Homo sapiens: one gene and its partner. The protein of the gene in region 2 interacts with the protein of the main gene of each other region in a pairwise test. Each region holds a gene or a part of one and is shown on either strand. Other genes may lie near its edges. The genes, in order: SGTA and CDH15.

Evidence for each region.
Region 1: the proteins of CDH15 (region 2) and SGTA interact in binary tests that used the Homo sapiens proteins (3 or more experiments, as listed by UniProt).

The regions. Positions count from the first base shown.
Region 1 is NC_000019.10:2,773,186-2,776,991, forward strand, and holds part of SGTA (small glutamine-rich tetratricopeptide repeat-containing protein alpha), read right to left. Parts: intron 1-3,806. UniProt on the Homo sapiens protein: Co-chaperone that binds misfolded and hydrophobic patches-containing client proteins in the cytosol. Mediates their targeting to the endoplasmic reticulum but also regulates their sorting to the proteasome when targeting fails.
Region 2 is NC_000016.10:89,192,203-89,196,008, reverse strand, and holds the end of CDH15 (cadherin-15 preproprotein), read right to left. Parts: intron 3,805-3,806; coding exon 3,565-3,804; intron 2,540-3,564; coding exon 2,403-2,539; intron 2,255-2,402; coding exon 2,096-2,254; intron 1,148-2,095; coding exon 854-1,147; 3' UTR 517-853; downstream 1-516. Other genes in the region: SLC22A31 (putative solute carrier family 22 member 31), read left to right, coding at 1-10. UniProt on the Homo sapiens protein: Cadherins are calcium-dependent cell adhesion proteins. They preferentially interact with themselves in a homophilic manner in connecting cells; cadherins may thus contribute to the sorting of heterogeneous cell types.

The DNA of each region.
Region 1 (3,806 bases), on a different chromosome or scaffold from region 2:
GGCCACACGGCAGGGACACCGAGGGCAGAGATGGGTGACGCGGCCACACGGCAGGGACACCGAGGGCAGAGATGGGTGACGCGGCCACAGGGCAGGGACACCGAGGGCAGAGATGGGTGACGCGGCCACACGGCGGGGACACCGAGGGCAGAGGTGGGTGACGCGGCCACACGGCAGGGACACCGAGGGCAGAGGTGGGTGACGCGGCCACACGGCAGGGACTCCGAGGGCAGAGGTGGGTGACGCGGCCACACGGCAGGGACACCGAGGGCAGAGATGGGTGACGCGGCCACACGGCAGGGACACCGAGGGCAGAGGTGGGTGACGCGGCCACAGGGCAGGGACACCGAGGGCAGAGGTGGGTGACGCGGCCACACGGCAGGGACACCGAGGGCAGAGGTGGGTGACACGGCCACACGGCAGGGACTCCGAGGGCAGAGATGGGTGACGCGGCCACAGGGCAGGGACACCGAGGGCAGAGATGGGTGACGCGGCCACACGGCAGGGACACCGAGGGCAGAGATGGGTGACGCGGCCACACGGCGGGGACACCGAGGGCAGAGGTGGGTGACGCGGCCACACGGCGGGGACACCGAGGGCAGAGGTGGGTGACGCGGCCACACGGCAGGGACACCGAGGGCAGAGGTGGGTGACGCGGCCACACGGCAGGGACACCGAGGGCAGAGGTGGGTGACACGGCCACACGGCAGGGACTCCGAGGGCAGAGATGGGTGACGCGGCCACACGGCAGGGACTCCGAGGGCAGAGATGGGTGACGCGGCCACAGGGCAGGGACACCGAGGGCAGAGATGGGTGACGCGGCCACACGGCAGGGACACCAGATTGCCCTCACGTCCTCACAAGGAACGAGCCCCGACAGAACCTTGATCATGGACTTCCGGCCTCCAGGACTGAGAGACGATGAACTCTGTTTCAGCTGCCTGGTCTATGGCACTCTGTCACCGCGGCCCCAGCAAACCGACACTAACACCTGGCAAGCAGGCATCTCAGGACGCACCTCAGTCCTCGTGACGACTCCAACAAGCGGGTCGGCCCTGTCTCCAGCTGAACTGAGCCAGGTTGGGCAGGGACGCGTGGTCGCATGCCCAGGATCACATAGACAGGAGAACAAACGGGCTGTCATCACACGGAAGGGAGCAGTGAAGGGCGGTGGCCGAGGGACACGGAGGGAGGGAGCAGCTGCGCGTTGCTCACTGTGCTGCGGTCCCAGGAGCCAGCTGCCCGAGGGGCAGCTTCTTTTATAAGAAAACGACACTTCCTATCACGTCTATGCAAATGTCCATTTTAACTTTAAGTGCACAGATGTCTAATGGCCCGAGACACGTAGGTTAACACCCGTGCACGCGTACACAGAGGCCTTCACCTACAACCATCCCCGTGTAGACAGCATCAGAGGCAGGGCACCAAAAGCATTAAAACCATGCAGATGACCTACCTGAGCACTTCGCAGACCTAGAACGTCAACTATGTAAAATACCTGCCCATGAACATTGGCAAACTCCTGGCCTCAAGCAATCCTCCCACCCTGGCCTCCCAAAGCGCTGGGATCACAGGTGTGAGCCACCATACCCGGCCTCCTCCAGGAGGCAAATGCTGAGGAAAGCCGTGGATTCTACTGACCCACTGGATTTTGCTGAAGCTGTGTGCGCGCGCATGTGTGTGTGTGCGTGCATGTCTCTCCAGATTCTGTCTCTCTCCCAGACCAGCGGTTCTCGATGGATGTGCTGAGACACTTGGTGTTGTCTCACATGGAGTGGGGGGAGGCCAGGGACGCTGCTCAGTGCCCTGGAGTGCCCAGGACGGCTCCATCCCAGAGGATGATCCGGCCTCAACATCCACAGCTCCCACTGGGAGAAAGCTGGACTAGAAGAGGAGGACCTGAAGAGCCTGTGGGTGCACCAGGCCCTTGACACAACACCGTCTCATGACCTCGGCGCAGTGACCTATGCGGCAGGACTGGGGATGGAGGTGTTCACTCAAGGCCACTGGAGCCACAGGCACGGCAGGATCCGCGCCCGGCAGGCGCCTGACCTGCCCCCACACTCAAGATCAGAGGCGTTCAGTGTCTTGGTTCCCCTAAAATGCCTCTACATGAGGTGAACAGCCACCACCCCCTAGAAAATGAGGCGTGGGCTGCCTGACCGCATAACCCACCCCGCGCCAGAGACAAGCAAGGCATTGGCCCGCCACGCTTTAAACAGTGGCTGACGTCAGACTCAGATGACACCGGCGACGTGGACCTCCACGCCACTAAACAAGCATAGTCCCAGACACACTGGGTGTGCCCACAGCTTTGTTTCCCTTTCAGGGAAAGCAACATCCATCAGCAATCATTAAAAAACAAAACAAAACAGAGAGCAAAAGAGCCAGACCCAAAGCACACACAGGGTGTGACACCGACTCCATTTCTATGAAATGTCCAGGACAGGCCCATCCAGAGACAGGAAGGAGACGCGTGGGTGCCGGGGCTTGGGGAGGGGAAGGGGAGTGACAGCTGGTGGGGACCAGCTTCCTTGCTCCCTTTTGGGGCGATGAGACAGCTCTGGAACCAGAGAGTGGTGATGGTTGCACAACCCTGTGAAGGCACCAAATGCCACTGAATTTCACGGTGTGGGGATCACAGCGGTGTGGGAATCACAGCTCAATGTTTTAAAGGGGGAGAAATCTACAAGAGCTGTGTTTTGTGTCGCTGGACAGGGAGTTACGGTCTTCCTGAAAGCTCCTGCGGGATGGTAATGAGTTTTCCGCCCCCATCTCAGGACACAATGGACAGCCCAGAACTTTGAGGTCTGGGATCAGGACTGCCTAGAGCCGGCGGGCAGCCAGTCCCAGAATCCAAAGATCTCATGTACGACACATCAGGGCCCACGGCAGTCAACCACCACCAGAAAGTGAAACCACAAAAGCTGACGTCATCCGCCCCGGCCAACAGGGTTCAGAGAGCAAACCAGTCAGGTCTCCTGACCCCCAAGCCCAAGGAAAACAGACACATGCCACCCGAAAGGTGAAGATTTTTGGTTTACGGAGTTTCTTTTGTTTTATTTTTAAGCACGTTTTGACAACAGCATTACAATAGCCAAAAGCAAACAGCCCAAGTGTCCACGGACAGGTGAGTGGATCAACACAATGTGGCCTAGCCACACGACGGAACGCTACGCAGCCATGAAAAGGAAATCCTGACCAGGCTACAACATGGGCGGACCTTGAGGACGTCGCACTCAGTGAAATAAGCCAGAAACAAAGGTACAAAACCTGTGTGACTCCCCTCCTAGGCGGTCCCTAGAGTCGTTGGATTCACAGAGACCAAAAGTGGAATTGGGGGTGCCAGGGGCTGGGGAGTGAATGTTTCATGGGGACAGAATTTCAGCCTGGGGAGATGAGAAACTTCTGGAGATGATGGTGGCGATGGCTACATAGCTGTGTGAATGTGCTTAAAGCCACTGAACTGTGCATTTATAACTGATTAAGATGGTAATTTTTGGCCTGGCATGGTGGCTCACGCCTGTAATCCCAGAACTTTTGGAGGCAGAGGCAGGTGGATCACCTGAGGTCAGGAGTTTGAGACCAACATGGTGAAACCCCATCTCTACTAAAAATGCAAACAAAATTAGCCAATCATGGTGGCGCACACCTGTAGTCCCAGCTACTCAGGAGGCTGAGGCGGGAGAATCGCTTGAACCCGGGAGGTGGAGGCTGCAGTGAGCTGCGATAGAGCCACTGCACTCCAGCCTGGGTGGCAGAGCAAAACTCCGTCTCAAAAAAAAAAGAAAGACTGGTCGGGCACA
Region 2 (3,806 bases):
GCAGCACTAGTCCTGCCTGGTGGCCCTGGGAGCCAGGATGGGACCAAAGTCAAGGCCTGGGGCATGGCTGAGTACCCCAGACGTCTGGTCCAGGGCAGACACATTCCTCTCAGAAGCCCGTGTCTCAGTGCAGGTGGAGCCGTGGGGACAGCGTGAAGGTGTCTCCAGCCAGGCCCCAGGCACTGGGAGGCCCTGGGTCTCCCCCCAGCCACACCCAGTAGGTGTGGAGGATAAAGGCTTCTGTGGAACTTGGCGTCCTCCCTGGTTCTTCCCTCAGGCCACACCTGGGGCCTGGAAGGGTCTCACCTGTGCCTGCTCCCCACCTCTGGGCTCACCAGCAAGGAGCCAGGGTGTCAGCGGCTGCTCCATAGCCCCTGTCCAGGTAGTGGCAGCCCCCGGCCGCCTCCTGCCCCAGCCAAGCAGGGTGGTATGGGGGCCTGGCCCTCAGGTCCCTGCCAGGCCAGGCCTCACTGGCCCCATCCCCCTCATGGTCAGTGTGGCAGTGGGCGCCCGTCCTGCATGAAAGAGACTAGCACGTTTTTCATTCAGATTTACCCAGGAGGTTGCTGTCTTTCATACAAAGATGAGGTTCACTGGTAGGAGGCAAAGGTGGGACTAGGGAGGTGACCCGCATGGGGCCGATGGAGAGAAACTCTTCCCACCCCGGCAGGAAGGGGCCTCTTCCTGGCCGCCCCATCCACACTCAGGTTCTGCCCCCAGACTTGGGCCCTCGCCTACAGGAAGGAGGCTGCCCCAGGCCCAGGGGGGTCGGGCCCGGTGACCTCAGGCTGCCTCTGCAGGGGCCATCACTGCCACGAGGCCGGGGAGTGGCATGTCCAGTTGCGCCCCAGGGTCAGGCTGTCCGGCCTCTGTGTCTGGGTAGCAGTGCCCCAGGAGAAAGACCCTCCCTGGCCTGGTGGTCCCATCTGGCCCCGTACTCCAACCCGCACGGGTGCCCATACATGTCTGCCAGCCGGGCGAAGCGGGGCCCCCAGTCTCTGAGGTAGTCGTAGTCCTGGTCCTCATCGCCCTGGCTGGACAGGATGGAGCTCAGCGTCCCCGCCACCGAGCCGTCACCCTCGTAGTCATAGATGAGGGCTGTGTCGTAAGGCGGCACACTGGGGTCACTATCTGCAGCCTCCAAGCCCTATAAAGAGGCCCGGAGAGCTCAAGACACATGGAGGGGCCAGCGGGTGCCCCACCGCCGTGGCCACAGCCCAGGGCAAAGTCAGCTCAAGGCACGGGCTCAGGAAGGGGAAGCTGCCCACGTCCGGGGGCGAGGTCTGAGGGGAGGCAAAGCGTCCTGAGGGCACAGCAGCAGGGTTGTGAAGAGGGTGCCACGGACTACCCCCTTCCTCAGTATTAGGCCAGCGGCCAGCCCGTCCCCCGGGGCTCTGCCCTGCCCCAGCAAGGTGGGAAGGGGTTGCTCCCCCTCACCCTGGTCTCTTCCTCCCCGTGGCCCTTGTCCACTCAAGGCAGAACCCGAGCCTCCTGGACACCCCCATCCGCAGAACGGCCCGTCTGCCTTTCGGAGGCTCTGTCTGCATGTCTGTCCTCTCAGCTCGTGGGGACACACGCTCCTAACCGGGGGTGTACACCTTGGCTGGGGGCTTTCTCTGAGCCAGGTGCTACAGGTGCAGACAGGCACAGAGGAGGGTTCCCTGTGCGCCCCACACCCCAGATTCCCCGTGTGCACATTCATCCTGTGGATGGCAGGGAATCATTAACGCTGTGTCCAGAGGGTCTTCTATGGAGGCCCTGATTCCGCTGACAGCCACCGAAGCCCAGGGGATGCTCCCGGGGCTCCCCCACCCCCTCCATGGTGGACACGGGGCAGTGGATGGGTCTGTGGCCATCGCCACTCCATCTGTGCAAAGACCCGCGTCGCGGGTGGAGGCTGAGGGCCCAGTTTGGACGGTGGCAGCGGGGCTTCCACACTCCCGCCCGCACACCATCTTCCTCTGCGGTGCTCTGGGACGGCCCATAAGTGCATGCAGGCGCCGGTTCTTGCATGCATGTGCAGGTGTGTACATGTGCATGTGTGTGTGCACCTGTGCGTGCCTGTGTGTACTGGGGTGTCCCCAGGAGCACCTACATCATTGATGAAGTCGGCGATGTCCAGGGGGCTGGTGGGCAGCACTCGGGGTGGCTGGGGGTGCAGGCGGCCCTGCGGGGCATCTCTGCGAAGTGGCGGCGGTCCCAGAGGCAGGCTCAGCGCTGTCGGGTGACGCAGCTGGCTGATGTCGTAGGCGTCCTGTGGGCGAGGAGGTGGAACAGAGCCAGGCATCCCTCGGGTGGCCCTGGTGGAGGTCTCAGGTACAGGCTCCTGGCCAGCTTGTTGTAAGAAGGCCCGCGACCTGGGTTCCTTGGGGACCCCTCCCCACCCACACCTGCCCCCTCACCTGGTCCTCCTCCCCGCCTCCTTGCTCATCGTAGTTGAGGACATTGTCTCGAAGGTCGTCCTGGGGGCCGTGCAGCAGCCCCTTGCCCCGAGACTGCTTCCAGAACCGCGCCCGGAGTGCCACGAGCAGGACCAGCACTGGGGAATGAGGGGACGCAGGCTGGGGCCAGGCACAGGGCGCGACTTCAGGGGGCCGGGCTGCGAAGGAGGTGGGAGGAGGGGGCGGGGCGGGGCAAGGCTGGTAAGCAGGGGTGGGGTTGAGGGGGCGGCAGTTGGGGAAAGGGCGTGTCTGGCATGGAGGAGCCGGGGTTGGGGAGGAAGCCGCGAGGTTAGGGAGGAGGGGGCCGGGTTGTGGAGGAGGGAGCTTGGCTGGTAAGGAGAGGCCGGCTTGGGGAAGAGGCGTGGCTGGCAACGAGGGGGCGGGGTTTGCGAGCAGGGGGCGGGTTGGGTGGAAGCGGCGTGGCTGGTAATGAGTGGGTGGTGTTGGGGAGGAGGCGGCAGTGGAGAAGGGGCGTGGCTGGTAATGAGGGGGCGGGGTTAGGGAGGAGGCGGAGCTGGGGAGGAAGGGGCGTGGCTAGTAATGAGGGGGCGGGGTTGGCGAGCAGGGGGCGGGTTGGGTGGAAGCGGCGTGGCTGGTAATGAGTGGGTGGTGTTGCGGAGGAGGTGGAACTGGGGAGGAAGGGGCGTGGCTGGTACTGAGGGGGCGGGGTTACGGAGGAGGAGGAGCTGGGGAGGAAGCGGCGTGGCTGGTACTGAGGGGCGGGGTTAGGGAGGAGGAGGAGCTGGGGAGGAAGCGGCGAGGCTGGTAATGAGGGGGCGGGGTTAGGGAGGAGGCGGAGCTGGGGAGGAAGCGGCGAGGCTGGTAATGAGGGGGCGGGGTTAGGGAGGAGGCGGAGCTGGGGAGGAAGCGGCGTGGCTGGTAATGAGGGGGCGGGGTTAGGGAGGAGGCGGAGCTGGGGAGGAAGCGGCGTGGCTGGTAATGACGGGGCGGGGTTAGGGAGGAGGCGGAGCTGGGGAGGAAGCGGCGTGGCTGGTAATGAGGGGGCGGGGTTAGGGAGGAGGCGGAGCTGGGGAGGAAGCGGCGTGGCTGGTTAGCAGGGGACGGCCTGGGGAGGAGGGTCCGAGGGTCCGAGGGTCCAGGTGGAGGCGGGGCGCTCACTCACCCAGCAGCAGGAGGGCGCTGGCCAGCACGATGACCAGTGCGCCCAGGCTGAGGCCTGTGCCCCCCGCCAGCAGCGCTGCGGCCCCCGGCAGGCAGACGCCGTCCTTGCCGCAGCGGCACACGGTCACGTTCAGAGGCTGCTCGCGCTGCTGGGGCGGCTGCCCCGAGTCCCGGAGCAGCAGGCTGAGGCGGTGCAGGCCTTCGGGGACCTGGTGTCGCGGCCGCAGGCGCGCGTGGCTCACT